2 separate regions of the Homo sapiens genome follow, and region 2 is linked to region 1. Evidence: fine-mapped expression QTL. A gene starts in region 1. The other region holds a variant in brackets. All regions are shown on one strand. Distances are from middle to middle.

Region 1 (15,848 bases):
AAATAGATAAATAATTAAATTGAACTCTTCTCTTATGCCATACACAAAAATCAATTTAAAAGGGATTAATGACCGAAACATAAGACCTGAAACTATAAAAGTCCTAGAAAAAAACATAAAGGAAAACTTCACAACATTGATCTCAGCAATAGTTTTTCAGATTTGATACCAAAAGGACAGGCAACAAAAACAGAAATGAGCAATGTACAGTAATAAAACTAAATGTACCTACTGTACAGTATCAAACTGAAAAGTTTTTGCATAACAAAGAAAACAACCAACAAAATTAAAAGGCAGCTTATGAACTGGTGGCAAATATTTGTAAACCACATATCCAACAATGAGTTGATATTCAAAATATGTAAGGAACTCATAAAACTCGATAGCAAAAAAAAAAAAAAACCCTAAATAACCCAATTTAAAAATGGGCAAAGGACCTGAATAGACACTTTCCCCTAAGAAGACATACAATGTCCAACAACTATATGAAAAGATGCTCAACCTCACTAATCATCAAAAAAATGCAAATTAAACTGAGATATCCCCTCACACTGAGCTATCACCTCACACTTGTTAGGATGGTTATTACCAAAACGTCAAAAGATAACAAGTGTTGGCAAGGATGTGGAGAAAAGGGAACTTTTAGACATTTTTTGTGAGAATGTAAATTGGTACAGTTGTTATGGAAAACAGCATAGAAGTTTCTCAACTAAATTAAAAATAGAATCACCATGTGATCCAGAAATCTCACTTCTGGGTATGTATCTAAAGAAATTGAAATCAGTATGTCAAAGAGGTATCTGCACTCCCATGTTCATTGCAGCATTATTCACAACAGCCAAGATGTGGAAACAACCTAAGTGTCTGTCAACAGATGAATGGATAAAGAAAATGTGGTATACATATATAATGGAATATTATCAAGCCTTAAAAACTAAGTAAATCTTGCCATTTTCAACAACGTGAATTAAACTTGGAGACATTATGCTAAGTGACAGAAACCAAACACAGAAAGACAAAACTGCATGATCTAATGTATATGTGGAATTTAAAGAAAATGGAACTCACAGAGCAGAGAATAGAATGGTTGTTACCAGAGACTGTGGAGAAGGGGACAAAAGAAGATATTGGGGATACAAACCTTCAGCCATAAGGTAAATAAGTACTGGAGACCCAATGTACAGCATGATGGTATATGAGTCCATTCTCACATTGCTATAAGAAACCACATGAGACTGGGTAATTTATGAAGAAAAGAGGTTTAATTGATTCACAGTTCCACAGGCTGTACAGGAAGCATGGCTGGGGAGACCTCAGGAAACTTACAATCATGGCAGAAGTTGAAGGGGAAGCAGGCACATCTTCACCTGGCAGAGCAGGAGAGACAGCAAAGGGAAAGGTGCCATACACTTTGAACAACCAGATGTCCTAAGAACTGTATCATGAGGCAGCATTAAGGGGATAGTCTAAACCATTAGAAACCACCCGCATGATCCAATCACCTCCCACCAGGCTCCACCTCCAACACTGGGGACTACAGTTCAACATGAGATTTGTGTGGGGACACAGAGCCAAACCATATCAGATAGCTGTAGTTAATAATAATGTACACTTGAAAGTTGCTAAAAGAGTAGATCTCAAGTATTGTCATTAAAAAAATAAAAGGTAGGCCGGGTGCAGTGGCTCACATCTGTAATCCCAGCACTTTGGGAGGCTGAGGCGGGCGGATCACGAGGTCAGGAGATGGAGAACATCCTGGCTAACAGGGTGAAACTCCATCTCTACTAAAAATACAAAAAAAAATTAGCTGGGCGTGGTGGCAGGCCCCTGTAGTCCCAGCTACTCGGGAGGCTGAGGCAGGAGAATGGCGTGAACCTGGGATGTGGAGCTTTCAGTGAGCCAAGATGGCGCCACTGCACTCCAGCCTGAGCGACAGAGCGAGACTCCGTCTCAAAATAAATAAATAAATAAATTAAATAAAATAAAGGTAATTATGTTAGATGATTGATATGTTAATTAGTTTGATTGTGGTAATCATTTCACTATGTATACATATATCATACATATAGCAAAACATCATGTTGTATATTTAAAATATATCCAATTTTTATTTGTCAACCATGTCTCAATAAAGCTGGGGAAAAACTCCAAGTGATTTTAAATCAAAGTAATCCTAAAAGGTATACACTGTAAAGTTTTATTCCCACAAAGGTTCCCATCTGCTTCTCTTCTCCCCGTCACATATCCTATAGGCGGAGTGATCATACATTGTGGTTTCCCAAGAACATTTCCAGTTTATGCCTTTTTTCTTGGTTTAATTATTAATAGTGCCCCCATTTACTCTCAAAAGTTTAACTAATAAACATGAGAGGAAAAAAATCAATGAACTTGAAAACAAAAGTAATAGAAAAAAATTAATGAAACCAAAACAGATTCTTCTAAAACATCAATAAAATTGATAAACTTCTAGCCAGACTGACAAAGAAAAAAAGGGAGAAGACAAAAATTACCAATATTGGAAATAAAAGAGGGGCTATCATGACAGACCCCCACAGAAATTAAAATGATAAAACGAATACAGGAAGTCCTCAAAGTGTGTCATTTCATTCAACTTTGATGAGGTTAACAAAAAAATTGATTAATGGCACACTGCGTAGAGTTTGCATGTCCTCCCCGTGTCTGCGGGTTTTCTCTGGTTACTGCAGTTTCCTCCCAAATCCCAAAGATGTGCATGTGACGTAAACTGCTGAGCTAAATGGTCCCCGTGTAACTGATTGTGTATGTGTGTGCATGTTTGTGTGTGTGTGTGTGTGTGCCCTGAGATAGGGTGGCATCCTGCCTCGGGCTGGTTCCTGCCCTGTGTCCTGAGCTGCGGGGATAGACTCTGGCCACCCACAACCCTGAACTAGGATAACTGGGTAAAAGCTCTGGCCACCCACAACCTTGAACTGGGATAACTGGGTAAATAATTATCCTACTTGTTTTTATTAATCTTTTTTTTTTTTTTCTGAGACCGCGTCTCACTCTATCGTCCAGACTGGAGTGTAGTGGCTCAATCTTGGCTCACTGCAACCTCCGCCTACCAGGTTCAAGCAGTTCTCATGCTTCAGCCTCCCCAGTCGCTGGGACTTCAGGCACGTGCCACCACGCCCGGCATTTTTGTATTTTCAATAGAGACGGGGTTTCACCATGTTGGCCAGGCTGGTCTTGGACTCCTGACCTCGGGTGATCCACCCACCTTGACCTCCCAAAGTGCTGGGATTACAGGCGTGAGCCACCGTGCCTGGCCTATTAATCTGTCTTAAATGTATGTATAGCTCTCATTTATTTCAATATTTAATATTAGAAGTGTTTTGGTCTTTATTTAGAAATTTGGTGATGTTTTTGTGACCAGAAGTATGTCATAGGCACCTAACTGTCATTTATATCAATTAGGCTATAATAAAAGTGGTTTCCTTAAACTTTCAATTAAGGTTGCCATTTCCAAGAACGTACTGAGGATGTTAAGGACTTACTGTCCTAAAAACAACTGTATGCCCATAAATCCAACAACTTAGATAAAACAGACCAATTATTAAAATACACAAGCTACCTACACTCACTAAAAAAAAAAAAAAAAAATAGTTCTACAACTATTAAATAAATTGAATTTGTGGTTAAAAACTTTTCAAAAAAGAAAATTCCCTGCCCATATATTTTACTGCAAAATTCTAGAAAACATTTAAGGAAGAAACAATAACAATTCTATACAATCTTTTTCTGAATTTATAAGAGAAGGAAACACTTCCCCATGCATCTTATGAAGCTAGCATTACCCTAATAGCAAAACCAGTATAATGAAAGAAAAATAAAGACCAGGCCAGGTGCGGTGGCTCATGCCTATAATCCCAGCACTTTGGGAGGCTGAGGCGGGCAGATCACTTGAGGCCCAGAGTTTGAAACAAGACTGGCCAACATGGTGAAACCCTTTCTCTTCTAAAAATACAAAAATTAGCTAGGTGTGGTGGTGAGTGCCTGTAGTCCAAGCTACTTGGGAGGCTGAGGCCCAGTAATTGCTTGAGTCTAGGAGGTAGAGGTTGCAGTGAGCTGAGAGCACACCATTGCACTCCAGCCTGGGTGACAGAGTGAGACTCTGTTTCCAAAAAAAAGAAAAAGAAAGACCAATATCCCCCACAAACACAGACACAAGAATACTCAACAAATTATTATTAAATTGGGTCTAGAAATATATAAAAAAGGAAAATACAGAATGATTAAGTGGGATTTATCCAAAGAATGCAAGATTGTTTCAATGTGGGAAAACTCAACCAATGTAATTTACCAGATTACCAAACTAAAGAAAAAAACCATGATTATCTAAATGGCATTTGACAAATTCAAATTTCTTTCCAAAAAAACTCTCAGCAGACTAGAAATGAAAGGAAATTGCCTGGATATGATTAAGGACAACTGTAAAAACCGATGACTAACATCATACTTAATGGGAACAAGATAAGGACATCCTTCTTTCACCACTGCTATTCAATATCATAGTAAAAGTTTTAGCCAGTGCAACAAGGCAAGAAAAACAAAGTCATTCAGATTGAAAGGGAAAGAAAAAACTCTATTTGCAGATGTCAGAATTGTTTATGTAAAAAAATCCCAAATAACACACGAAAAAAATTCTAAAGCTAGTCCTAAAACTAGTAAGAGAGTTTAGCAAGGTCATAGGATAAGAGCTCAAAATACAAAAGTCAATTATATTTCTATGTACTAGCAACAAACAATGGATTTGAAATTTAAAAAAAAAACTAGTAACAAAAAGTGGAAAACTTAAACACAAATCTAAAAAAAATATAGTATCTATATATTGAAAACTATAAGATACTAATTAAAGAAACCAAAGAAGACCTTAGATATGTGGAGAGATACATTATCTTGGTTTGGATGAAAAATTATATGGTCACACTATCTACACAGGTAATAAAAGGTACTTTTATTTCTTTTGTATATTCCCAGTGCTTATTTATACAAATATAAAATTCTTATCCCCCCTGGCATTACACAATACCTCACTTGTTCAACTTAAAATATATCCTATAGAATTTTCCATATAAGTACATAGACATTTTCCTCATAAAAAAATTTTTATTGTGAAAATAATTTTAGACACACAGAAAATTTGTAAGAATGGCATAGTAAATACTCACATACCACCACCTGGATTTCCTTATTTTCTTTGATAAACATGGTATTTGATTGTGTGAAGTTAATTCATATATTTCTCATTGAATAGTTAGATGCTGAAAATTCTGTCTTACCCCACTGCTGTCAGATGGGGTGGAGAATGGTAGGAGATGGAGTCTAACCAAAATGCATAAGCTTTGAAGCGAGATAGAGCCAACTCCAAATAACCATTCTGTCACTTATTGGCTGTATGGCCTTTAGGCAAGTTACTTAACTTCCCCCGGTGTCAGTTACTTCATAAGTAAAATGAGAATATAACTACTACACCAAAGGTTACAGTCAGAATCATGTGGTGATATGATAAAGTACAAAAGAGTACTTTAATCTTAGGAAAGGTAAAATAGAGCTGCAGCAGTGTCATCATAGCCTTGACCTTATTCATAAGTTTGGTTAATGGAACAAGGTGAAAATCTACCTGACTATAAAATTTAGTTGGTGGAGCTAAGTGACAGAGACCGTATAAGAAGCACTGTTATCCTTGGCCATTTCAATTAATAGAATTATCTTCTCAGCCGTGGCCGGGCGCGGTGGCTCACGCCTGTAATCCCAGCACTTTGGGAGACGCGAAGTGGGCGGATCACGAGGTCCAGAGATCGAGACCATCCTGGCTAACGTGATGAAACCCCGTCTCTACTAAAAATACAAAAAAATTAGTGGGGCGTGGTGGCGGGCACCTGTGGTCCCAGCTGAGGCAGGAGAATGGTGTGAACCCAGGAGGCAGAGCTTGCAGTGAGCAGAGATCAAGCCACTGCACTCCAGCCTGGGCGACAGAGTGAGACTCCGTCTCAAAAAAAAAAAAGAATTATCTTCTCAGCCTTGGGCTGATTCACCAGTTCATTAAAAAGCCAAAGACTCTTTCAAATCCTAATCTCTATACCCAGAGCCAATACTTTACCAAAATATCTGGATTGCCCACATAAGGTGAGGAGCCAGTTAGTGAATTTGCCATTTTTATTCTTTTATTTTACCAACAAGATATGAAAACTTTGGGTGTTCTGTTTGCATTTCTTTGTCCACGGAATACATTTCCAACTCCAAGGGGAAGTAGTTGCAGGGAACTTTACTGCCATTCGTGTAACTACAATGTCAAATCATCTGCAGCGTATATTCTATTTGGAGGCCTTTTCCTGGCTTACAAGTAGAGAGTGAAACACAGCCTCTATTAGTAGAGCCGTTTCAAAATTTATTCATTCACTCACCTAACAAAAACTTTCCAAACCCCTACTGTGTGCCGGGCATTGTACTTGGTGTTGAAAAGAAAAAAACAAATTCCTGTCCTTAAGTAGCTTACAGCTCAAATAAGGGGAAATAAGATACATTGACAATTATGAAGTGCTTTGGGAGAGAATAGAATGGCTTCACAGAAGAGGCTAAGTTTCTGTTGAGCTGGTGAGACTGACAAGAGGAAGGCCGTGCGCAGCAGAGTGAGCATAACCTGCAAGCACAAAGACATTCTATGGTAGCAGGCTTGACTTCAGAGTTCCACTGGGGCACTAGGTGCAGAGTAGGCTGGAGGGTTTGGCTGAAGCTATTACCAGTTTGGTCTTCATCCTGCTCAATGGAAAACTTTTCGTTCAATGGGGGAACGATTAAATGTTTTTAAGCAAAGACCTGAGATAATCAGATTTACTTTTTTAAAAGATCTGGTAGCCATATGAAGGATACTTTGGAAGGGGTAATAGGAAAACCAGTTAGGAGGTTATCGCAGTGAAACAGAATGTGGTCTTCATGGAATATCTAGGATTTCCGTGAATGAAATGATCTTGTTTGATAAATGGGGTAATGTCTGAGAACTATTTATCAACTGAAAATCAAGAGGGAAATCAGCAAGAAAATCGGTATGTTTGGCATTATTTCAATCAAAATCCTGGCAGAATTTTTGTAGGTATCAACAAGTTGATTCAAAAAATTTGGGAGAAAGGTAAAGGAACTAGAAAGTTAAAGGAACAGCCAAAACAAATTTGAAAAAGGACAAAGTTGGAGGACTATACTCCCTGATTTCAAGTTTATTGAAGACTTCAGGTCCTTTTCTCTAACTCTGTAATTGCTTAAGTTCTTATACGGTTTGCCAGACAGTGAATAAGGGAAAACAAATGAAAAACACGAATTTAATCAGTTTGGTTCCCTGACTGCTGCTTAATATGGAGATTTGAGGAGAAGGTGAAAACTCTCATTACACAAAAACACGTGGATACATGTATCACTCATCTCTTAATTCCACTGATAAACCAGAGGTCATTGCAAGATAAAACATACATAATGAAAATAATTGGCTGTTTGCACTGACGCTTTAAAATACATTTTCATTTCCTATTAAAAGCTTTATTTGGTCCCTTTCTCTGAATAATGTATGCAGTGCTCATTTCTCTTCACCGGATCGGCTCAAAGCTTGATGAATATGGCTGTGGTTTGATGGGCAGTCTCTGCATCTCACATTGAGGCTCCGCTATGAAAAGAATTAGAATAGCAAGATCAATTGTCAGGCTAAGTAAATGAGCTCTCATCTCGGATCTGATTGCTTATATGAGAGGGCTGAAGTGATTCTTGGCTGCACTCTCAGGGAGAAGAGAGAAATGCATTTTAATTGCCCTGGCAGGGATAACAGGTGTTCTGTCCAGCTACCAAAACGCAAAGCCGCGTCTTTGCACTATAGAAGGCTTTCCCTTAAGTGAGAATACATATTCTTAAAGCAAAACAACTCAGAAACGCTGGTGTGGTGATGCACGCCTGTAATCCCAGGACTTTGGGAGGCCGAGGTGGGCGGATGGCTCGAGCCCAAAGAGACCAGCCTGAGCAATATGGTGATGACCCCGCCTCCACGAAAAAATACAAAAATTAGCCAGACGTGGTGGCGCGCGCCTGTGGTCCCAGATACTGGGGAGGCTGAGATGGGAGGATCGCTTGAGCTCGGGAGGTCGAGGCTGCAGTGAGTCGAGATCGCACCACCGTAATCCACCCTTGGCGACAGAGGAAGACCCTATCTCAAAAAAGCAAACCACCAAAAAAACCAGGGACAGCTCAATGCTCTTTTCCGTTTCATAGCTACTTACACTCAGATTTACAAATACCTATTAACTTGTAGACAGGGCAAGAAATAATTTATGCTGAAGAGACGAAAGACCTGAAAACAGATTTCTGTGTTTTACTCTCCATGTGGCCATCATGGACGAGGACGAAGAGGGACTTGATTTTTCCTTTAACGAGAAGAATGTTTAAGCTCTGAATTTTTAACCAATTTTTATGCTCGTTACTCTGCTGTAGGGTATGTATTTACCAAGATTAGCAGAACACCGCGAGTTCACCAGGCGGAGACAAGTCACTGTGAAGTGGGCAGCACAGGACCCCCCGGAGGGCAGGCGCCGGAAACTACATATCCCGGCGTGCCCCGCTCGCGAGCACAGTGGAGCCTGCCGCCATTCGGTTCACGGCGCTACGCATTCCCTGAGCGCCGCCGGATGCCGGCCTGGGTCCCGCCCAGGGCTGAGGGCCCTCCTGGGCCGGGAAAACTACAGTTCCCGACATGCCCTGCCACGGGTGCGCCTGCGTACCGGAGCTACTGCGCCGGGGAGCGGGTTGGTTTAAAATGCTGTGTTAGTTCCACGGAAACCCGCTCGCCTGCTGCAGTACGGAGCCTCAGGCGGACAGATGGACTGTAAGGTGAGGCTGCCGGGCCCCGGGCTGGTGAGGGGTGGTCGGAGGCTCGCGAGGCTTCGGCTCAGATAAGGACAGTCACCACTCCCTGGCGCCCTCTCCCTGTCCTGACGGAGTCCAGTCTCACTCCCTGGACCTCAGGGCCCTGATTTAAGGCGCTTTGGCGTTGGCTGCCGGTGAAAGCCATTTAGGAGCGAAGTTTGCATTGGCCTGGCTCCAGCTGAGGGATGGGAGATAGCCACCGAAGCCTCCAGATAAGCCCAATACCACCTTTATTTATGTGTTAAGTTGGAGTTTAATAGGTTCCTGGGAAGGCTATTTCGGCGTTAATGTTTGATTTTTGCCACCAGTTAATCCTCCCTGGCTTGCTTACCAGAATATAGGTGTCAGGAATTTGCACTTGTTCTTTACGGTTTCCGCAGTACCTGGCGCTCTTGCTAGAACGGAATAGACATTCGTTAAATTCCTGTCGAAGTATTCTCCTGTTTATTTACCACCTATAATTTCCCAGGCACTGTATTAGGCTCTAAAGATAGAAAAATGTCTATTTTTAACCCCACTTTAGAGAAGTTCGTATTAGTCCGTCTTAAATGCCCCCCAACACATGCTTCTAATTTGTTAATCTTGGCGTGCTCAGGACTAGGTCCTTTAATCCTTTGTGTTCTCTGTTATCCCGCCTTATGGTTTTCTTGAGCTCTTCAGAAATTAGTCTCCAGTCCACACCTCACCCCCAAACTTCAGATCCACAAATTCAATAATGTATTTGGTATCTTTCATGTTTTAAATTTGACATTTTAAAAACTACTCTTTATCTTTTCCACAAAACGGATTCTTCCTTAATAAGTTTGCATTGTCTCAGTGATAGCACCATCCAGGCCAAAAACCCTGTAGTAATCTTGGCTTCTTCCTTTCCCTCATATCTCATATCTAATGCATCAGCAAAAGCTATCTTTCAAGTATATCTAACCACTAACCACTTCTTACAGTAGGAATACCGCTGCTGTCACCTTGGTTCTGGCCAGCAGCATCTCTACTTCTGCTTTTGTTCTTCCACCATTTGGAGTGGGAGGGAGTCAAAATGATCCAGTTAAAAGGAAAGTTGGATAGCATTCCTCAGCTATAGACCTCCAGTGACTCTGAGAATCACTGACAGCAAAAGCCAGACTTCTACAATGGCCTTCAAGGCTCTGTGTATTCTGTTTTTTGTTTTTTTGAAACGGAGTCTCGCTCTGTCGCCCAGGCTGGAGTGCAGCAGTCTCAGCTCACTGCAAGCTCCGCCTCCTGGGTTCACACCATTCTCCTGCCTCAGCCATCCGAGTAGCTGAAACTACAGGAGCACGCCACCACGCCCGGCTAATTTTTTTTTTATTTTTATTTTTGTATTTTTAGTGAGACGGGGTTTCGCCGTGTTAGCCAGGATGGTCTCGATCTCCTGACCTCTTGATCTGCCCGCCTCGGCCTTCCAAAGTGCTGGGATTACAGGCGTGAGCCACCGCGCCCAGCCGTATTCTGGTTTTATTATTACCGTCTGACCTCATCTCTCAATGTTCTCTGTGTTACTCCTTCCTCTCCAGCCAAACCCACCTCTTTATTATGTGCGGACTCATCAGACCTTCTAACTTCAGGCCTTTGCACTTGCTGTTTCCGTCTTCTGGGCCTTTCTGCCCTCTGATATCTATATAACAGGTCTTTGCTCAAATGTTATGAGGCCTTCTTTGACCACCCTGTTTAAAATGAAAATCTGCCCTGTAGCCTCCATACCATGTTCTTTCCTATTTCATTTTCCTCCTTTGCACTTATCACCAATAAACAAACTATGTATTTTACTTAGTGTCTGTCTTCTTCAGCTGGAATATAAGCTCCACGAAGGCAGGGAGTTTTGTTCGTACTGTTCTACCCAACCCCTGCCCCCCGCCTCATTGCCTATAACAGTGTGTGGCTCATGGTAAATGTTCAGGAAATATTTGTTAGATGTGTGAGTGAATGAAGACAGTGTTACCATATTATTTTCTAGTGGTTGTGATAAACAACATTGACTCCCTGGACTGTTATTTTGGAACCAACAGCATGTACTTGTATACGCTTTTGCCAGTGTACACCTATTGCCAGGTGTAGGAATGGAGCCTGTGTCCACAGAAGCATGTGTTCTCTTTTCAAAGTCATCTGGTTTTTACTAGTATATTACTTGTGACATTGGTCTTTTTCTTGCCATGCTTTCCATAAGGTTACCTGCCTAGAAGCTCTTTGGAAATATTCTCCCTAAACATCAAGACAGAATTCTGTTAGTTTGATAATAATATATGCATAGAAATTAGTTATGAATGAACTTTTTTAAAAATAAAAGTTTATATCTCAGTATTTTTATTATTGTTACTATCAAGCGTTAGGACTTAGGTTCAAGGCAGCAATCAATATTTGCTCCTTTTCAAACACAACAAAGCACAGATATGTTAAAGCTGTTGTCTCTTTGCTAGAATGTCAGCCATTAGAGGTAGATTGTTTTCATGTAAGACTGTGCTTCTTAGACTATGAGCCATAGAACTATGACTTATGAGGATCTGCCAAGTGGCCATTGGAGAGTGTGCGTGTATTTATGTATGTAGGGGTGTGGGTGGCATTTCTGCTACCACTGCTTTGGGCCTACCAGATGGGGAGGACAGGCAAGGGTATGAGCAACTGCAGTGAAAATGAGAATCTCTCTCTAACTTTAAGCCCCAACTTGGTAGATTAATTTACTGGATTGAAAGTTCTTATCTCATACTTTAACAGCCTCCCAGATACTCGGGGACTCTGCCTGGTGGCTTTAAGGCTGTCCTCTTGCTACTCAGCCATTACCGCCCCCTCCCTTGCTTCCAAGGACTCTCCTGACCTTGGCATTGTTTGGTTTTTGTTTTTGTTTTCCCATGGCGGGAAGTGGAGGTGGTGGTTGGGAGGGAAGGTTTTTAACTAACCCTGAGACTTGTTTTCATTTTTTATTTTTTTTTAGAGACAAGGTCTTGCTTTGTCACCCAGGCTGGGGTGCAGTGGCACAATCATAGCTCACTGCAGCCTCTACCTCCTGGGCTCAAGTGATCCTCCTGCGTCAGCCTCCCAAGTAGCTAGGGCTACAGGCACAGGCCACCATGCCCAGCTCATTTTTAAAAATTTTTGGAAGAGAATAGGGTCCTGCCATGTGGGCCAGGCTGGTCTGGAACTCCTGGCCTCAAGTGATCCTCCCACATAGGCCTTTCAAAAATGCTGGGACTACAGGCATGAGCCACTGTGCCTGGCCATGAGATCTGTTTTTAGTAAATCCCCAAAGGCTAGATTGGCTTATTTAATTTTTGTTTCAGCAACTTTGATGACCTGAACAGGATTCTCAGCGATTGACTAAGAGGATATTTTAAGGACAACACCATGTATTTCACTCAAAAGCTTTGTGCCCTGCCAACCATCAATCAGTGTCCGAGTCACCTCAATCTCCCCCTTCTTAGGGTGAATTTTCTATAAACCTCCTTCCCCTCAGAGGCTGGGCCAAGTTGGTTGCTCCTTTTTGAAAGTATATTTTCTCTATGGAAGCCTGAGAAGCTTCAGTGTAGAGCAGGGTCGGGTGGCACTCAGTGTGGATGCAAACCAAATTCCTACCGCGACATGTTGGACCTTCTTTTTTTTAAAACAAGTGAAGCAATTTAAATGATTTGCTGTTTTGTTTTCATGGCTGAATGTACACATGTCCTGGAGAGCCAATGTAAGCATTTAATACAGATCATAGGTTCCTTAGGGAAATATCAACAAAACTAAACATTTGAACAATTACATGAAAAAATTTTAGTTGGGAATCTGCATCCTATTCAAAATATGTGGGGGAGCTTCTCCATTTCCATTTTTTTCCAAAGACAGACTTTTGCAATATGAGTATTAGTATTATGTGCTTGGCTTCTGATATAAATGAACATAGACAAGACTCTATATTATAACCAGCTACCTGGGTCTAATAAATTGCCACAGAAATTGTTCTCCCTTCCCCTCTCCAGCACTGCTTGTCATTTTTACTTCTTCCTTCTACTTGTTTTTCCACCAGCTAATGCCTGGGCCTACTATATGTAGAAGAAAGTGACTAAAACAAACAAAAAAAAGTTTTTTATCTCACATAAGCAGAGTTTGAAGATTACTGGTTTTGCCCAAGTGTCAACATAGTCTGAGGTTCTCTGTCTTTTCCTTGTGTTTATCAGACACTGGTGATCCTTGGCTCTTCGTTTATATTTGAGAGTGAGCTGCTGCATACCTGACTGATGGAACGCTCTGGGAATTGTAAGGGGGTAGGAAAAGACAGGTGCCATCATTACTCTTTTTTTAATCTAGAAAAACAAAAGTCTGCCTAGGAGCCCTTTTGCAAACTTCTGCCCAAAGTCTCTTTGGCCAGAATATATCACATGAGTGTGCCTGCTGAGGCGAGGCTGGGGTCATGAGCTTTTCTGCTTCTTTTGGAGAGAGGACAAAGGAGCTGTGTCTGCGCACACCCTATTAGCCACCCTTTCCCTAGGTTTTCTCCCCATCTTTGGCATGATTTATCTCTAGGTCAGTAGCTGGACAGCAGGTGACAGAAAATAGAATGGAGGTGTTTCTCCATTGTTACCCCTCCATTTTTTCCCCACCCAGTGCTGTTGGTGGCTCCACCAACTGCAGCCCTGGTTTATGGCAGCTGATCCAGCCCGACGGGCTTACTCAGAGGCTCTTTCGTTTACTACTTGAGGAATACTATACTGGCTCATGTGGTAACATTACCAGGAGTCTCCACATCAGTTTTTTTTTTCCCAGAAATGTAGAGGAGCCCCACTTCGAATATTTTGCGTGTCCAGAGACTGCATCAATATCTGCATGTCTTTGTCTTTCCTTCAGGAATGAACTGAAAAAAATGAAAGTTAATTAATAGAAGGGAGCTTCTTTCACCCCATGTCCTTAAGCTGACTTAACAACAAATCTAAAGAATGCAAAAAGCTTGTGTCAAAAAAAGTTTCACAGTAGGGCATGAAAGAAAAATTCTGGTCAGAAACACCATAGTAAGAGTAAAAAGAAAAATAGGCTGGGCGTGATGGCTCATGCCTGTAATGCCAGCACTTTGGGAGACTGAGGCTGGCAGATCACTTGAGGTCAGGAGTTTGAGACCAGCCTGGCCAACATGGTGAAACCCCGTCTCTACTAAAAATACAAAAAAAAAAAAAATTAGCCGGGCATGGTGGCACATAACTGTAATCTCAGCTACCCGAGAGGCTGAGGTGGGAGGATTGCTTGAACTTAGGAGGTGGAGGTTGCAGTGAGCCAAGATCGCTCCATTTCAGTCCAGCTTAGGTGACAGAGCAAGACTCTGCCTCGAAAAAGAAAAAAATAGGCCATTTTCTGGAACCTGTGGGAAGAAGATACAAAGTGAATTGGAGAGCTATTTCAGGATGAAGAAACATCCTCAGCGGGTATAGCAAGCTCAGCCCCACCATGATTCTTGCTCCCTTAAATCCTGCCACCAGTCCTCCCACTTCATGAATTCTTGCCCTGGGTCCCAGGACCACCTTCAGCAACTTGAACATGAGGTGGACCCCCCTTTCACTTCCAGGAAGGTAAGGGTCAGGGAGATACCTGATGACATAGGAAGTGGGTACAAAGGTGTATTCCTGATATCCCAAGTTGGACCCTTGTGAACACATTCCCATACGAACACTATCGCTAGAAATGGCTAAGGCTTACAGCATGATTAGTAGAGAAATGTCTGCAGAGAACGGAGTTGCAGGACAATGTTTTTAAAGTTTTCACCAATTACCTTGTCATTGAACGTGATTCATTTACACGTTGTGACCACATATAAGCTAATTCTGCTTCTGTCACTAATATCTTGAAAGTATTCTCACTATTCTTATTTATTTTCATTGCGTTTTGGGGGAGGAGTCTGTGGAAAGTTGATGTCAATAGCTGTAGAAAGGTCTTTGCTCTTGCCTGAAGTTAAGGTTGCATGTTATTTTTTAAAATGCTGCTTCAATGCAGGATACATAGTTGGTAAGTCATTTATTTTATGGCAACTGTACAGAGGTCCAAGTATAGAATGTTTTTCAAGAAGGTTGAATGGTAATAATGTTATGATGAAAATGGCTAGTAATAAAAGCCATTCCCTCAGCAAGTCATAGGTCCTTGTGTGTGACTAATAGTGGCAAATAGAATAGACTAAATTATGATGAAATAAAGTACTCAACAATCTTAATGGCTTACAACAACATAGGTTTATTGTATGTCATGACATCCACACTGTATATCATGAATGGGTTGTGGGTCTGTTTGATGTCATTGTCACCGTGGGATCCTAGTGCCTGGAGAAAGTCCTACCTGGGATGTTGCTCATCTCATAGGGGAGGGAAAAGAGAGAGATGGTGAAGAACAAGCTGGCTCTTATAACTTCCACCTACATTTAATTGGCCAAAGCAGAACACATCACCATTCCTGAGTTCAACAGGACAGTGATGCCTAATCCTGGCACAGGAATGGCAGTGACTATTTTTGAACAATAATAGGACCTACCACACTAAGATTGTGACTGTATTCTTAGGTACATATGGAAACTACAGTGTCCAGACCGGTCCTTTCTCCAACCCACATCAACGCTACAGCTTCTGAAACATTCACAGTACTTCAGCAAAGGATGAGAATAGTTGAGGAACAGACCAGTTCACTGAGGGATGACCTAATAATGTTGGATTTTGGTGAAAAAAGGTAACAAAAATGAACTACATCTCTGTAGGTTGAAGAATTTTGCTTCACTGCTTATTAAGTCACAGTAGTTTGGCAGATGAGATGGATATTTGCAAAAGAACTGAGAAATAATTTTCATTTGAGCATCACTTAGAAAACATTTGCAAAATGAAGAGTTGTCGTTCTGTGATAGAGCTAGAGCTACTATCACTTTTTTCCTAAACAGATATTTAAAATGTGTTAATTAGGTATACAAACTT
Region 2 (15,848 bases), 340 kb after region 1:
AAACTCTTTCCCACCCTGGTGGCAAGACCCTTTCTCTGAGTTCTCCATTTGTTCATAGATTTGGCTGCTTTCACCAGACCCTTGCATTTTTCTTCTTCATTTTCATTCCTGTTTTTATACCACTTTTTATTCTTCCACTCCAGAAAAAAAAAATCCAGAATTTGACAAACAAACTGTCGTTTGGTATGTGGCAGGAAGGAGGTAGGGGATGAGGAGCATTGGCACAGAACATTTTATCTCTATCACACAGATGTAATCACATAATTACAACAGAAAGTGATATACCAGCTACATTGCTAGTGGCATCTACATTGCTAGTGATATACCATCTACATGGCTAATGGTAGATTTAATCAAATGACAGAATCATGGGCAATTTTAGTTCTGAATTTATGTTGGTTGTTTTTGCAATAAATATTTATTTTAAGACATTGGAATGCATAAATAAGGATTGGGAGGTAAATCAATCATTCTATTTAATGCTACGTTAATAGTGTTCAGAACCAGCTCTAAGCTCCGCAGCTAAGGAGTAATGAAGAAAATCTGGAGGTGCTCCAATAAGAACCATCAAAATATTAAGAATTTAAGAATATATCCTTTTAGGAACAATAAAAGGAACTGAACTTAGCTTAAAGGTTTCTTCAACTGTAAAACATGGAGATTTGACTCAGTAATTTTAAGATCCCCCTAATAGGGACTTCAAAATTTTAAAGTGGAGATAGGGGGACTTTAAAATCAGTCTTGTGTTAACTCTACATTTACTACATTTTTTCAGATAACTTTCCATGATCCTAAATTTGTCATGCTGCGGTTAAAGCCCGTTTACTCTCTTGCTCAGAGGAGAATGGGCACATCTCCTTAACCTCTTCTGTCTGGAAGAAATTCTTCTTATGATGGAAGGACTAAGATGCAGTCAGCCTTCAACCATGGTTATTCCTCAGCATCTTCATATGCTGAGTTCACTGTTTCAGATGCTGTGGGTAGTTGGCAGTTTCTCTGTTGACTAACGGATCTAGTCTCAGAACAAAAAAAATGTTAGAGCTGGAAGGATATGAGAAATTACTGAGTCAAATCTCCGTGTTTTACAGTTGAAGGAAGCTTTAAGCTGTTTGAGTTCAGTTCCTTTTACTCTTCCTAAAACTGTGTATTCTTAAATTCTTAATATTTTGATGGCTCTTATTGGAGCATCTCCAAGTTTTCTTCATTACTCTTTAGCTATGGAGCTTAGAACTGGTTCTACTGAACAGTATTAACATAGCATTAAGTAGAATGATTGACTTACCCACCCCCCCAATCCTTATTTATGCATTCCAGTCTCTTAAAAAAATCTTTATTGCAAAAACAACCAGCATAAATTCAGAACAAAAATTGCCTGAGATTCTGTCACTTGATTAAATCAATATTTCTTTTTGAGACATGGTCTCACTCTGTTGCCCAGGCTGGAGTGCAGTGGTGTGATCAGGGCTCACTGCAGCCTCTACCTCCTGGTCTCAAGTGGTCCTCTCACCTCAGCCTCCTGGGTAGCTGGGACTACAGGCATATGCCACCACACCTGGCTAATTTTTTGTATTCTTTGTAGAGACGGGGTTTTGCCATGTTGCTCACACTTGTCTCAAATGCCTGGGCTCAAGTGATCCTCCCGCCTCGGCCTCCCAAAGTCCTAGGATTACAGGCATAAGCCACCACGACTGGCCAATATTTTAATTTTTTCTATGTTATCTTATAGCCCTTGTCCATAGGCATATTCAATGTTTGCATATTTTTTTTGCATATAAACCAATTTTAATTCTACATTTTATATTTTCACTTAACATTATGTCATGCACATCTTCCCTTTAACTACAACTTTACCATTCCTTATACTTTCTTCCTATAACATTATAGAGTAGGTCCTGACATAACTTTGCTTGTGATCATACAAAATGACACCTATAAACAATATGTGAATTTTTCATTGATATCATTTGAGATTACAACCATAAACATTTAACTGCAACTTGCTTTTTCAAACCATACTTGATATTTCTTAACCACATTTATTATTATTTTTATTATTATTATTTGTTTGAGACGAGTCTCAGTCTCTCACCCAGGCTGGAGTGCAGTGGTGCGATCTCGGCTCACTGCAACCTTCCCCTCCTGGGTTCAAGTGATTCTCGTGCCTTAGTCTCCTGAGTAGCTGGGAGTACCGGCATGTGCCACCATGCCCCACATTAATTATTTTTAACAGCTGCATTTTTTTTCATAGTAGGGATATACTAGAATTACATTAAGATTTTCTTGAGTTTTTTCTACTACCAAAAAATGCAATAAACATTTTGGCATGCGTGTCTCTACTTTTCTAAAGGAGTAATATTTAACTCATACATACCAGAAGAGGATACTGGCTAGCAGTAAAACTCTTAGACCTGGGCCCCCTGCTAGTAAAACTCTTAGACCTGGGCCCCCTGCTAGAAGACAATTGCCCTGGCCCTCCTCCAGTTCAGGCTCTCCCCATGGGGCAAGGAGTCTGTGAGCCAAAGGGGATGCATCCAATTGTAGTCTGTGACCCCCTTTTTGACTAGTTTTATACCCAAGATGATGAAATAGCCTACTCAGAGGTCCTGAGCCCACTTACAGGCTTGCATGGATCTCTATCCCAGCTCTGTCCTCTTGAGGGAAGCCTGCGCCACCACTGCAAACACCTCTAGGCCTCAAGTGTAGCCAAGGAGTGTTTGAGGGTACAGACAGAGCTTGGTCATGCAGGCTGGGGGTTTGTATGACTACATGCAAGACTCCTCTCAGTGAGGGAGGAGGATAGGAGTAGGAAGACAATGAGGGTGAGTCATGAGCCACAGGTTGAAGATGGGAGGCTACCTTCCCAGTGCTACCATGGTCAGAGAAGGGCAATAATTTTATTTTATATTATTTTTTGAGACAGGATCTCGCTTTGTTACCCAGGCTGGAGTATGGTAGTGCAATCTCAGCTCACTGCAACCTCCACCTCCCAGGTTCAAGCAATTCGCATGCCTCAGCCACCTGAGCAGCTGGGACTACAAGCGTGTGCCACCACGCCCGGTTAATTTTTGTATTTTTAGTAGAGAGGATTTCCTTATGTTGGCCAGGCTGGTCTCGAACTCCTGGCCTCATGTGACCCACCCACCTTGTCCTCCCGAAGTGCTGGGATTATAGGTGTTAGCCACCATGCCTGGCCAGGGCAATAATTTTAAATTTGAATAGTTCTTGCAGGTTGTCATGAAGGGATGTTTGTCAAAATATGGTGATAGAACATATTTGATTTAACAGATTTTTAGCTTGAATTTACAGCAAAGTTTAAGTATATAATAGCTGATATGCAAGTCTATATTTGTAGCCTGCCCAGGACTTGAGAATGTTAGGGGCAGGCCTACTAGTCGGTGTCTCTTTTGATTAGGATTTTTTTCTGATTGGTAGGTATCTGCATCATACTAGTTGTTAAATATCTTAAATATCACCTTGCTTATTTCTCTTTCTCCAGCATAGATTCCCTAAAGTATGAGTGCTTGTTGAAAGGGTATGTATAATTCTAATGTTAATGGATATTGAAATCTTACCAGATTTTATCATTCACATTTAGCATCCCTGAAATTGGGATGCATCTTATAATTAAAGAGCAGAAAGCATTGTGTCATAGTTTAATTGGCAGTGTTTTTCTTCCTTAGATAAAATAAAGGTGCATCCTTCAATTGCTATCTTAGATTTGATGAAATAAAGTATTACCCCCATTGGAGCAATTCCTATACCCACTACCACTGTAGGAGAGTTCCTGTTTTTCAGCCAGCACCATTTATTATCACTGTTTTCAATATTTTGGGTGAAAAATAGTATGCCATTATCTTTGATTTGGATTTCCCTGACTATCATTGATGTTGAGATTATAAAATATACTTTTTGAATATTTAGATTTCTTTTTCTGTAAAGTATTAATTTATATCCTTTTCCTATTTTTAAAATTGTGTTTTCTGTGTTTTTCCTATCACTTTATACAATCTCTTAATATATTATAGATATTAAACTTTAAACTATCATTTTTATTAAAAATATTTCCCTTTCTATCATTTGACTTTAACTTTGCTTATGATGATATTACCATCCAAAATTTCACATTTTTATATAATCAAATATATCAATCTTTTAATTTATTACTTCTGCTTACAGTATCTCCCCACGCAAAGGATGCACATGAACCGGAGATTTAAAAAAATCTTTGAACAACATCAAAGGATATTCAGTGAAAATAAGTCTCCTTTTCATCCCTAACCCTGGTTTTCCCAGTTCTTCTCACTAGAGGAAACACTGGTAACAGTTTCCTTATTGCCTATAAGGGAATATTCTCTCTATATGTGTATCCCCCTCTCATGCTTGTTTATATTCACAAATGGCAGCAAACTATACTCACTGTCTATTCTTATTTGTTTACTTAATAACATATCTTTATATACAGACCATATCATTCCTTTTAAAACTTCCATGATTTCCTATTGCATTCTATTGCCATAATTTATTAAACTAGTCTCCACTGAGTTTCATGACGTTAAACATACATCTCTACACTGAGACCCACCATGGTTATTAGACTTTTATGTTATCTGTGAAGCCCTTTCTTAAGTTGACATTGAAATAAGCCTTGATAAACTTTAAAGTATTGAAATCATACAAAGTATATTCTCTTGCCATATGGAATGAAAGTAGAAATCAGTACGAGATGGAAATTTGGGAATTTCACAAATATGTGGAAATTAAACAACATACTCTCATACTCTTTTTTTTTTTTGAGACAGCCTCTTGCTCTGTTGCCCAGGCTAGAGTGCAGTGGCATGATCATGGCTCACTGCAGCCTCTATCTCCGAGGCTTAAGCAATCCTCCCTGCTCAGCCTCCTGAGTAGCTGGGACTACAGGGGTGCACCACCATGCCTGACTAATTTCTGTGTTTTTTGTAGAGACGGGGTTTTGCCATGTTGCCTAGGTTGGTCTTGAACTCCTGAGCTCAAGTGATCTGCCTGCCTCAGCCTCCCAAAGTGCTGGGATTACAGGTATGAGCCACTGAGCCTGGCCAAAACAACATATTCCTTAATGACCAGTGAGTCAAAGAAGAAGTTACAAAGGAAATTGGAAAATATTTTGAGAACAATGAAAATGAAAATGCAATATACCAAAACATCTGGGATGTAACTAAAGCAATGCTAGGAGGAAAATTTATAGCTGTAAACACCTATATTTAAAAAGAATATTTTATATTAAGATTCAATAACCTAACAACCTTAAGAAAATAAAAAAGGAGGACAGGTGCCGTGGCTCATGCCTGTAATCCCAGCACTTTGGTAGGCCAAGGCAGGCAGATCACCTGAGGTCAGGAGTTTGAGAGCAGCCTGGCCAACATGTTGAAACCCTGTCTCTACTAACAATACAAAAATTAGCTGGGCATGGTGACACACACTTGTAAGCCCAGCTACTTGGGAGGCTGAGGCAGGAGAATCTCTTAAATCCAGGAGGCAGAGGTTGCAGTGAGCTGAGGTCATGCCACTGCAATCCAGCCTAGGTGACAGAGTGAGACTCCATCTCAAAAAAAAAAAGAAAAAGAAAACGAAGAGTAAACTATACCCAAAGTAAGCAGAAGAAATAAAATAATAAAGATTAATTACAAATAACAAAAATAAATGAAATAGAGAACAGAAAAACAATAGAGAAAATTAACACAAGTTGGTTCTTTGAAAAATCAGCAAAAGTGACAAACTTCTACCACGACTAAAGAAGAAAAGGAGAAAAGACTCAAATTAGTCAAATCAGAAATGAAAGAGGGGACATTACTACTAACCTTACAGCAACATAAAGGATTAGGGAATACTATGAAAAATTGTATAGTACAACAAATTAGATCATCTGTGTGAATAGACAAATTCTTAGAAAGACACAAATTGCTGAAACTGACTCAAGAAGAAATAGATAATAGATCTCTAACAAGTAAAGAAATTGAGTTAGCAATAAAAACAAACAAAAAAACCCACAAAGAAAATCCCAACACCAGATGACTTCACTGGTAAATTCTATCAACTTTCAAACAGAATCAGAATGATAAAAATCTTTTTCAAAATAGAAGAGGAAGGAACATTTCTGAACTTATTCTTTGAGGCCAGCGTTACCATCACACCAAAACAAGAAAAATACGTCAAAAGGGGCTGGGTGCGGTGGCTCACGCCTGTGATCCCAGCACTTCGGGAGGCCGAGGTAGGTGGATCACGTGAGGCCAGGAGTTCAAAACCAGCCTAGCCAGCACGGTGTCACACTGTTTTTTTTTTTTAAAAAAAATACAAAAATTAGCCAGGTGTGGTGGCACACACCTGTAATCCCAGCTACTCAGGAGGCTAAGACATGACTGCTTGAACCTGGGAGCTGGAGGTTGCAGGGAGCCGAGATTGTGCAACTGCACTCCAGCCTGGGTGACAGAGCTAGTCTCTGTCTCAAAAAAAAAAAAGAAAAAGAAAAAAGAAAGAAAGAAAGAAAGAAAGAAAGAAAGAAGGAAAGAAGGAAAGAAAGAAAAGAGAAAGAAAGACACATCAAGAAAAGAAATTGATATCCCTTATGAATATAGTTACAAAAGTCCTCAACAAAATATTAGCATATAGAATCCAACAACATATAAAAATTATTATACACCATGATCAAGTAGGATTTATCCTATGTATACCAGCTGACTGAACATATAATTGAACCCCTTTTCTTAATAAAAACACTCGAGAAACTAGAAATAGAAAAAATTTCTTCAAACTGATCAGGGACATTTGTGAAAAACCCATGGTAAACAAAATATATTATATATATATTGAGATGGAGTCTCGCTCTGTCGCCCAGGTTGGAGTGCAGTGCAGTGGCGCAATCTTGGCTTACTGTAACCTCCGCCTCCCAGGTTCAAGCAATTCTCCTGCCTCAGCCTCCCGAGTAGCTGGGACTACAGGCACCAGCCACCACGCCTGGCTAATTTTTTGTATTTTTAGTAGAGACTGGGTTT[T/C]GCCAAAATTATATTTAATAGTGGGAGACTGGATTCTTTCCCCCTAAGATCAGGAACAGGGTAAGAATGTCACTCACACCACATCTATTCAACATTATAGTGGAGGTTCTAGCCAGGGAAATTAGTCAAAAAAAGTAATAAAAGCTATAAAAGTAATCATCCTATACAGATTGGAAAAGAAGTAAAACTATCCCTATTTGCAGATGACATGTAGAAAATTTTTCTTACATGTAGAAAATTTTAAGGAATCCAGCTGGGTGCAGTGGCTCATGCCTGTAATCCCAGCACTTTGGGAGGCCAAGACAGGTGGATTGCTTGAGCCCAGGAGTTAAGATCAGCCTGCACAACATGACAAAACCCTATCGCCACAAAAAAATACAAAAATTAGCAGGGCGTGGTGGTGCACGCCTGTAGTCCCAGCTACTTGGGTGGCTGAAGCCAGAAGGATCACCTGAGCCCAGGAAGTCGAGGCTAAAGTGAGCCATGATCATGCCACTGCACTCCAGCCTGGACAGCAGAGTGAGATCTTGTCTCAAAAGAAGGAAGGAAGGAAGGAAGGCAGGAAAGAAGAGAGGGAGGGAGGGAGGGCTCTAAGGAATAGTTTTTCCACTGAAAAACTATTAGTGTTCACAAGCTCAGCAAGGTTGCAGGATAAACGATCAATTTTTAAAAAACAATTGTACTTCTATATACTGGCAATGAACAATCTGAAAATAAAATTAAGAAAACAATTCCCTTAACAACAACATCAAACAGAATAAAATATTTAGGAATGAATTTAACAAAATAAGTGCAAAACTTGTATACTGAAAACTAGAAAGCACTGTTGAAAGAAAGACTTAAAATAAATGGAGAGACATCCCATGTTCATGGACCAGAAAACCTAATACTGTTAAAATGGCAATACTTCCCAAATTGATCTACAGATTCTAAGTATAAGAGCTAAATCTATAAAATTCTTAAAAGAAAACATAGGAGTAAATCTTCATGACTTTGAAGTAGACAGTGGTTTTCTAGATATGACACCAAAAATATGACTTCTGTGCCTCAAAGGATACTGTCGAGAAAAGGAAAAAACGACCCATGGAATGGGAGAAAATATTTGCAAATCCTGTATCTGATAAGGGACTTGTATTCAGAATATATAAATAATGCTTATAATTCACCAATAAAAACACAACGTGATTTAAAAATGGGCAAAGGATTTGAACATACATTTGTCCAAAGAAAATATACAAATGTCCAATAAGCACACAGAAAGGTGCTTGACATCATTAGTCAGCAGGAAAGTGCAAGTGAAAACCACAATGAGATATCACTTCACATCTACTAGGATGGCCATAATAAAAATAAATGAGGAATAAGAAGTACTGGCAAGGAGGTAGAGAAATTGGAACTCTTATACATTGCTGATGGGAATGTTTGGCAGCCTCTGCGGAACAGTTTGGCAGGTCCTCAAAATGATAAACATAGAGTTACCATTTCCACTCCTAGATATATACACAATTCCACTCCTAGGTATATACACAAGAAATCAAAACATATGTCCATAAAAAAGTCTGTACACAAATGTTTATAGCAGAGTTATTCATGATCGCTCAAAAGTAAAAAAACAAAAACAAAACCCAAATGTCCACCAACTGATGAATGAATAAACAAAATGTGGTATATCCATATAATTAAATATTATTTGACTATAAAAGGAAATGAAGCACCTCTATATGCTGATACAGTTTGGATGTTTGTTCCCTCCAAATCTCATGTTGCAATATTACTATAATCCCCAATGTTAGAGGGGGGCCTGGTGGGAGGTGTTTGGGTCATGGAGGCAGATCCCTCATAAATGGCTTGGTGCTGTCCTTAAAATAATGAGTGTGTTCTTGCTCTGAGTTCACAGGAGACCTGCTTGTTTAAAAGAGTGTGGCACCTCTCCCCTCTCTCTCCTGCTCCCCCTTCACCTTCCACCATGATTGGAAGCTTCCTGAGGCCCTCACCAGAAGCAGCTGCCAGCACCATGCTTCCTGTACAGCCTGCAGAATCATGAGCCAAAATAAACCACTTTTCTTTATAAATTACCCAATCTCAGGTATTCCTTTATAGCAATGCAAGAAGAGACTAACACATATATTAAGACATGTATGAACCCTGAAAACATTCTGCTTAGAAGCCAGTCACAAAGAGCCACATAGTGTATTATTTCATTTACATGAAATGTCTAGAATTGGCAAATTCATAGAAACAGAAAGTAATTATTGGTTGCCAGGGGATGGGGAGAGAGAGAGAATAGAGAATGACTGTTAATGGGGACAGTTTTTCTTTCTGGGGTGATGAATATATTCTGAAATTAGATAGTAGTGATGGTTACATAACTTTTTAAAATCACTAAAAACCATCAACGTGTATCCTTTAAAAGAGCGAATTTTATGTTATGTCAATTATATCTCAATGGAGCTTTTTTTTTTCTTTTTTAATGGCTGCTGATTTTGAACCATGGGCCATAGTTTACCAACTCTCTGTTGTAACCAATATTTACAGACCCTGAAGAAAGGCCATCCGATATTGTTTTAAAAAAAAAAAAGGCGACAAAAAAGAAAATAATAGTAACATCAAGCATTTTGTTTTCTTTCCAAAATAGATATAGCATAGTCGTAAAGATTATTAATTCTGGAGCCACTTGACTAGATTTGAATCCTAGATCTGGCACTAATTAGCCATGAGTTCTTGAGATAATAATAATATCTACCTTCTAGAGTAGATGTAAGAATGAATAGCATCTGCAGGCGCCAGGCACGGTGGCTCACGCCTGTAATCCCAGCACTTTGGGAGGCCGAGGCGGGCGGATCACGAGGTCAGGAGATTGAGACCATCCTGGCTAACACGGTGAAACCCCGTCTCTACTAAAAATATTTTAAAAAATTAGCCACCTGTAGTCCCAGCTACTCGGGAGGCTGAGGCAGGAGAATGGCGTGAACCCGGGAGGCGGAGCTTGCAGTGAGCCAAGATCGCGCCACTGCACTCCAGCCTAGGCGACAGAGCGAGACTCCGTCTCAAAAAAAAAAAAAAAAAAAAAAAAGAATGAATAGCATCTACTTTCTAGGGTTGTTTTAAGGATGTAAAGCACTCAGAACAGTGCTTGGCACATTGTAAGCACTCAGTGAGCATCAGCTATTTTTACTATTCACCCCAATTAAAAAGCAGCCTGAGTAATTTAATAAGATGACTTTTTTTTTTTTTTTTTTTTTTTTTTAAGACAGAGTTTGGCTCTTGTTGCCCAGGCTGGAGTGCAGTGATGCAATCTCGGCTCACCACAAACTCTGCCTCCCAATTCAAGTGATTCTCCTGCCTCAGCCTCCCGAGTAGCTGGGATTACAGGCATGTGCCACCACACCCGGCTAATTTTGTATTTTTAGTAGAGACAGGGTTTCTCCATGTTGGTCAGGCTGGTCTCGAACTCCCAACCTCAGGTGATCTGCCCACCTAGGCCTCCCAAAGTGCTGGGATTACAGGCATGAGCCACCGTGCCCGGCCAATAAGGTGATTTTTATTTGCAGTTTAAAGGTTTTTAAAGGTTTTTGTCACAACCAGCATCTTAGCAACACTGTCCCCTGCTCCACACCATCCAGGACACTCTCAGATCACCAGGCTGGCGGCAAGGAAAATGATCATTAATATACACTAGAAAATATGTTCTTATCTCTAGGAACTATTGTTAGCACTCTGAAAGGCTTTTCTTTTTCAATATCTGAATGACATTGCAGTAAATTAATTGGTTTTCTCAATCTAATTTCTAGTGTTAGCTGTAACATCACAATGCAAGCACCCAGATGGCACCAACCGAGCCCTTTATCATCATTTTTAGCACTGATGCCAAAAGGAAATGGGCTCAGCAGCCTAATCAAAATTTACATGCTAATGGGTAGACCCTTGTGAATGAAGTTAAGCAGAAAATCAATAAATTACCAGGTAACATTCTCCTAACAAAATTTTTTACAAGTTTTAAGTAATAATAAAACAGTAAGGAGTAAATTTCAGGCCTGAAGAAGAATGTGAAATAAAACATGGAATGGATAAATCATTTCTGAAAAAAAGAAATTCAAAAGGGAATTAGAAACCCGTTAGCTTTCTATTTATTTAGTTTAAAATTGAGATTTTTCAGGAAAAGTTAATGTTTTAAAGCAAATTTAATTTTCACCTAAACAGCAATATAGAATTCCAATAATTTCAGTCTTTTGTCCTCTGCAGAAGGCCCGCTGGGAAGTATTCAATTTTTCATTGTTATCACTAAGACGTTGTCTGAACCACACTCTCCTTTTGTTCATTCTGCAGCTCTTTGCCATCTGTCATGTTTTCTGGAGAGCCTCATAAACACATTTAGGTTAAACCATATGGTCATAAAACCTGTCATTCTGTCATAGCCAAGGTTTGGTTAGTTTTTTAATAGAAATGCACTTGACCATTTTTACTTTGTTAAAAGCTTCATCCTAATCCTGGAACCGAATTTCAGCCTGACAGTAAATCAGCTCTTAGTATCCATCTACTTAAAGTAAAATACCTGAATAATAGATGTTTTGAAGTAGTTAAATGTTCTCATTTATTTTGCTTCAATTCTATGATAAATAGCTTTTCCTATTTGTCATGTTGGCCTCCTCAGATTTTTACTTCTTCACATCCAATGCTTTTTTTTCTTCAGTCATTCTCAACCACCCACTCCCATGGTTATATCCTTTGCTTTGTCATCCTCAAAACTATACCACCTGTGAAATCTTTACTTTGGGCACTCCACATCAAGATCACCAACTCTGGGGCTACAATTCAATAATTCTGTCTTATCCTGACCCCCATTGACTACCACTTTTTCAGTATCCATCACCTCCCTCATGTTTTCACTTTCTTCCTTACCCAGTTTAGAATCCATGATCTACATAATCACATCCATTAAAAGCACCACAGTTCCATAACCCTCTCTCCCTTTGGACTTACCTAGCAAAGCTCTATACCAGGTTAAATTCCACTGTCTTCTTACTCTATGCCTACACCCAAACATCTGATGAAAAAATCCACCAGGATGACTGGTATCATTTTAGATTTATGATTATAAATCTTGAGTGTACTAAATCCTACTCAGTAACCCTCCTCTGTTACTCTAAAATGTTCTCTCCAGGCTGGGCGTGGTGGCCCACACCTATAATCCCAGCAGTGTGGGAGGCTGAGGCAGGTGGATCACCTGAGGTTGGGAGTTCGAGACCAGCCTGGCTAACATGGCAAAACCCCATCTCTACTAAAAATTTTTTTAAAAATCCGCCAAGTGTGGTGGTGTGTGCCTGTAGTCCCAGCTACTTGAGAGGCTGAGGCAGGAGAATCGCTTGACCCTGGAGGTGGAGGTTGCAGTGAGCTGAGATCGCACCATTGTACTCCAGCCTGGGCAACAAGAGTGAAACTCCATCTCAAAATAATAATAATAATAAAATAAATACATAAATGAACTCTATCTTGCCAAATCCATTGGTCAACTTCTCTGCATTTGACTTCCCAGAAGCAATTGAGACAATAGAAATCACTGACACTCCTTCTTCTATGACCCTTTATTTCCCAGGTTTCAGGGACATCTTGGTCTCTTGGTTTTCCTCCTGCCTCTGACCATTATGTCTTGTCTTCGCTGCTAGATCCTCCTCCTCCCCTTCCTAACCTCTAAATGCTGGAGTGTGCACAGTTCAGGGCTCTTCTATCATTTATTCCTGAGGGAATCTCTTCTCATTTGTCAATACTAAAAAAAATTATATATATATATATATATATGCAGAGACAAATCTCTAAGCAAGAGGATTTTATTTGAGAGTAATATACAGAAAGTAGGCTTGCAATAAGGACATGCACACAGAGACCAGGGCAGTTTCCAGTGTGTCCAAAGAACAAAGGAAAGGGCTGGAGTTTTATTGGGAAAGGAGAAAGAAGATGTAAGTTGTTTTCAAAGAAAGTTAATTGGCGATAGCAGAGTGGGCGCTGGTGAGCTCTGATTGGCAGGTGGCAGCAACTGCTAGGTAAAGTTCGCCTTGAAGTCATAGCAGGCTGTTTCCTTGGAGTAAACTTGCGAGACAGTTTTTGGAAGACGTTTGTGACCAGAGTGCTCTTTCCCAACAAAGGCTCCTTGACTCCATTTTCATTGGGTAGGACAGGAATGACTCCAAATCAACTTTCACATGTCTACAATTTCATATGATCCCAGCCCTGGCTTCTTCCCCAAACTCTACTGTTTACTTGACTCAAGCCATCAGCAAATTCAGTCAACTCTACCTTCAAGACATATCCAAAATGTGTCACAGTCTCTTCATTTCCCTTGTTGCCAGACAATCCAAGCCACTATATTTACTTGTCTAGGCTATTGCAGTGGCTACCTAATTGGTCACTAGGGTTTCTCTCTCTTGTCTCTCAACAGCAGCCAGAGTGATCTTTTAAAAATGAAATCACTGGATAAAGAAAATGTGGCACATATACACCATAGAATACTATGCAGCCATAAAAAAGAATGAGTTCATGTCATTTACAGGGACATGGATGAAGCTAGAAGCCATCATTCTCAGCAAACTAACACAGGAACAGAAAATCAAACACCACATGTTCTCACTCATAAGTGGGAGTTGAACAATGGGAACACATGGACACAGGGAGGGGTATATCACACACCAGGGCCTGTTGGTGGGTTGGGGTAAGGGGAGGGAGAGCATTAGGACAAATACCTAATGCATGCGGGGCCTAAAACCTAGATGACGGGTTGATAGGTGCAGCATACCACCATGGCACATGTATACCTATGTAACAATTCTGTATGTTCTGCACATGTACCCCAGAACTTAAAATAAAAATAAAAAATAAAAAATAAAAATGACAGAAAAAAAAAATCAGACCACAGCCATTTTTCTGCTTACATTTCTCCAGTGGCTTTTGTCACATTCAGAAAAATATAGAAACTCCTCCCAGCTCACAAAATTTTATGTCTGGGCTGAGATCGCTGTTAATCTTCTGCCACCCTCCCTTTCCCTTGAGTCTCCAGCCACACTGGCCCCATTTCTGTTCCTAGAACATAACAAACTCATTCCTGCCTTTGGGTATTGGCACTAGCCTTTTCCTCTCCCTAGAATGTTCTCTCCTCTGATCTTTGCATAGCTGGTAATTTCTTGTGGTTAGGATCTGAGTTTAAATGTTAGTAATTCTTAGGAACCCCAACTATAAAAAATATAAATAAAGTTCACGAATTTGCTGGGTACTTTCAACTCAATGCAAACACAGGTAAGCTTTTTGTGCTCTAAAAGTACTGCTTCAGTATTTTTACTTTTGAAAATTATAAAATTCTTCCAGAATGTAATACACAGTACTTCATTAAATTGACATTTAAAAGCAGAAAATAGTATCCTAGAAATTGTGTCCACCAGTGCCTAGAGAACCCTGTGAGGCTGAAGTACTGTGTTGTCAGAGCTTGCCATGTGACGGTGGGCCAAGTGCCCCACCTTTGTGAGCAGGAGTTCCCCCCACTGGGAAAGTAGATACAATCACCTCTTGCTTAAGACAAGAAATATACATGTGTATGGCCACATTTTGGTTTGATAACAAAGGAATTAAAGATGCCTTGATCTGTGCAAATCTTCTCCCCTGGAAAAATACATAACCAGGGCACATGTGCTCAGCATTGCCTTCCAAAGTTCTTTCTCAACCTTGTAAGTTCTCGTTCTGAGGGCATATAAAGTATGTTTATGCAATCCCTTGTGAAAATAGATGAGGCAATATGGCTAGTGTCATAAGCAATACATTGATGAAGAAATGATTCAGAAACAAGAGAAAGGCAAATAGGTGAGCAGTGGGGTAGAGGAGCATTGACATTCTAAGTGGCGCAGTTATTCCCTGGGTTGAGTGGCACATTTGGTCTCCCTGGCGCTTGGAACTATAAATACTCTAGTAGCAGCCCTGCCCACCCCCCAGCCATTGTGCCAACTACAAATGCCCACACATTTCCAATCACTCCCTAGAGTGCCTGAGAATTAATGAATGGCACAGCCATTATCTTGGTGCTTTATATTTTACAGCAAATGTACCTTCAGGATGAAATTTGCTAAAGAGACAATTCATATAGTACTTTTACCCACAATGTTTTTATGTTAATAGCCTTTTAGCTTAATGCTTTTGTGCTTTGCAAACTAATTCTGGAACACATTAAGTGTGTTAAGTGAGGGATACTTATACAGGGATCTAAACCTACCAAATGGAATTAGCGTGAAGGAACCTTTGACAAGCAGTTTGAAGACAAAGTGCCACATCAATGTTCAAAAATATAATTACCACAGTGGAGGCCATTATCACATTTCTCTGCTTATGAGAACACAATTAAAATTAGGGATCTCTACATTTTCCTTGAAAGGGTGAGTTCAGTCAGTCAAGCAAGCAATTTCCTTAGCAATGACTGGGAAGAAGGTGTATTAGTATGATGTTACAGCCTCAAAGGACACCGTGATAGACCAGGGTGGCGAGTAGCTTCCAAAAATGGCTCCTAGTAATTGCTGTTCCTGCTGTTCACACCCTTGGGGAATCCCTTGCCCTTGAGTATAGATTGGACTTAGTAACTTGCTTCTCATGAATAGAATATGAGAAAAATGATGAAATATCACTTCTGAAATTCAGTTGCAAAAATCTGTGACTCTGTCTTGCTCTTTGTCTCCCTGGCTTTTCTCAGCCTGCTCGCCCGCAAGGCAAGCTGCCATGTTGTGAGCTTCCCTATGGGAAGGCCCATCTGGCAAGGAACGGACGGCAGCCAACAGCCATCAAGGAACTGAGGCC

Alleles and levels. Alleles are on the strand shown, and positions count from the first base shown. SD is a standard deviation of normalised expression in the study named.
In carriers of allele C in region 2, the expression in NK cells of the gene that starts at base 8,820 in region 1 tends to be lower than with T alone (large effect, 1.0 SD a copy in Schmiedel 2018).

What was found. PIP is the estimated chance that this variant, and not a neighbour inherited with it, causes the effect.
Region 2: its variant is the best candidate, but not a certain one, in a credible set for the expression of CCDC150 in NK cells (Schmiedel 2018, PIP 0.77).

Annotation. Positions count from the first base shown.
Region 1 is chr2:196,630,896-196,646,743 of GRCh38, forward strand. CCDC150 (coiled-coil domain containing 150) reads left to right here and starts at 8,820. Exons shown (of 28, transcript NM_001080539.2): 1 at 8,820-8,883; 2 at 15,446-15,609. The coding sequence starts at 8,872. LOC105373823 (a long non-coding RNA gene) reads right to left here and starts at 8,790. Exons shown (of 2, transcript XR_923747.3): 1 at 8,501-8,790; 2 at 7,533-7,672. RefSeq lists enhancers at 8,332-8,551, 8,572-8,621, 8,606-9,143, 9,144-9,681.
Region 2 is chr2:196,969,309-196,985,156 of GRCh38, forward strand. It overlaps a transcript of ANKRD44 not described here. Among named protein-coding and RNA genes, the nearest start is that of PGAP1, 51 kb to the left of the region's middle. The variant T/C (reference allele first, on the strand shown) is at 7,026.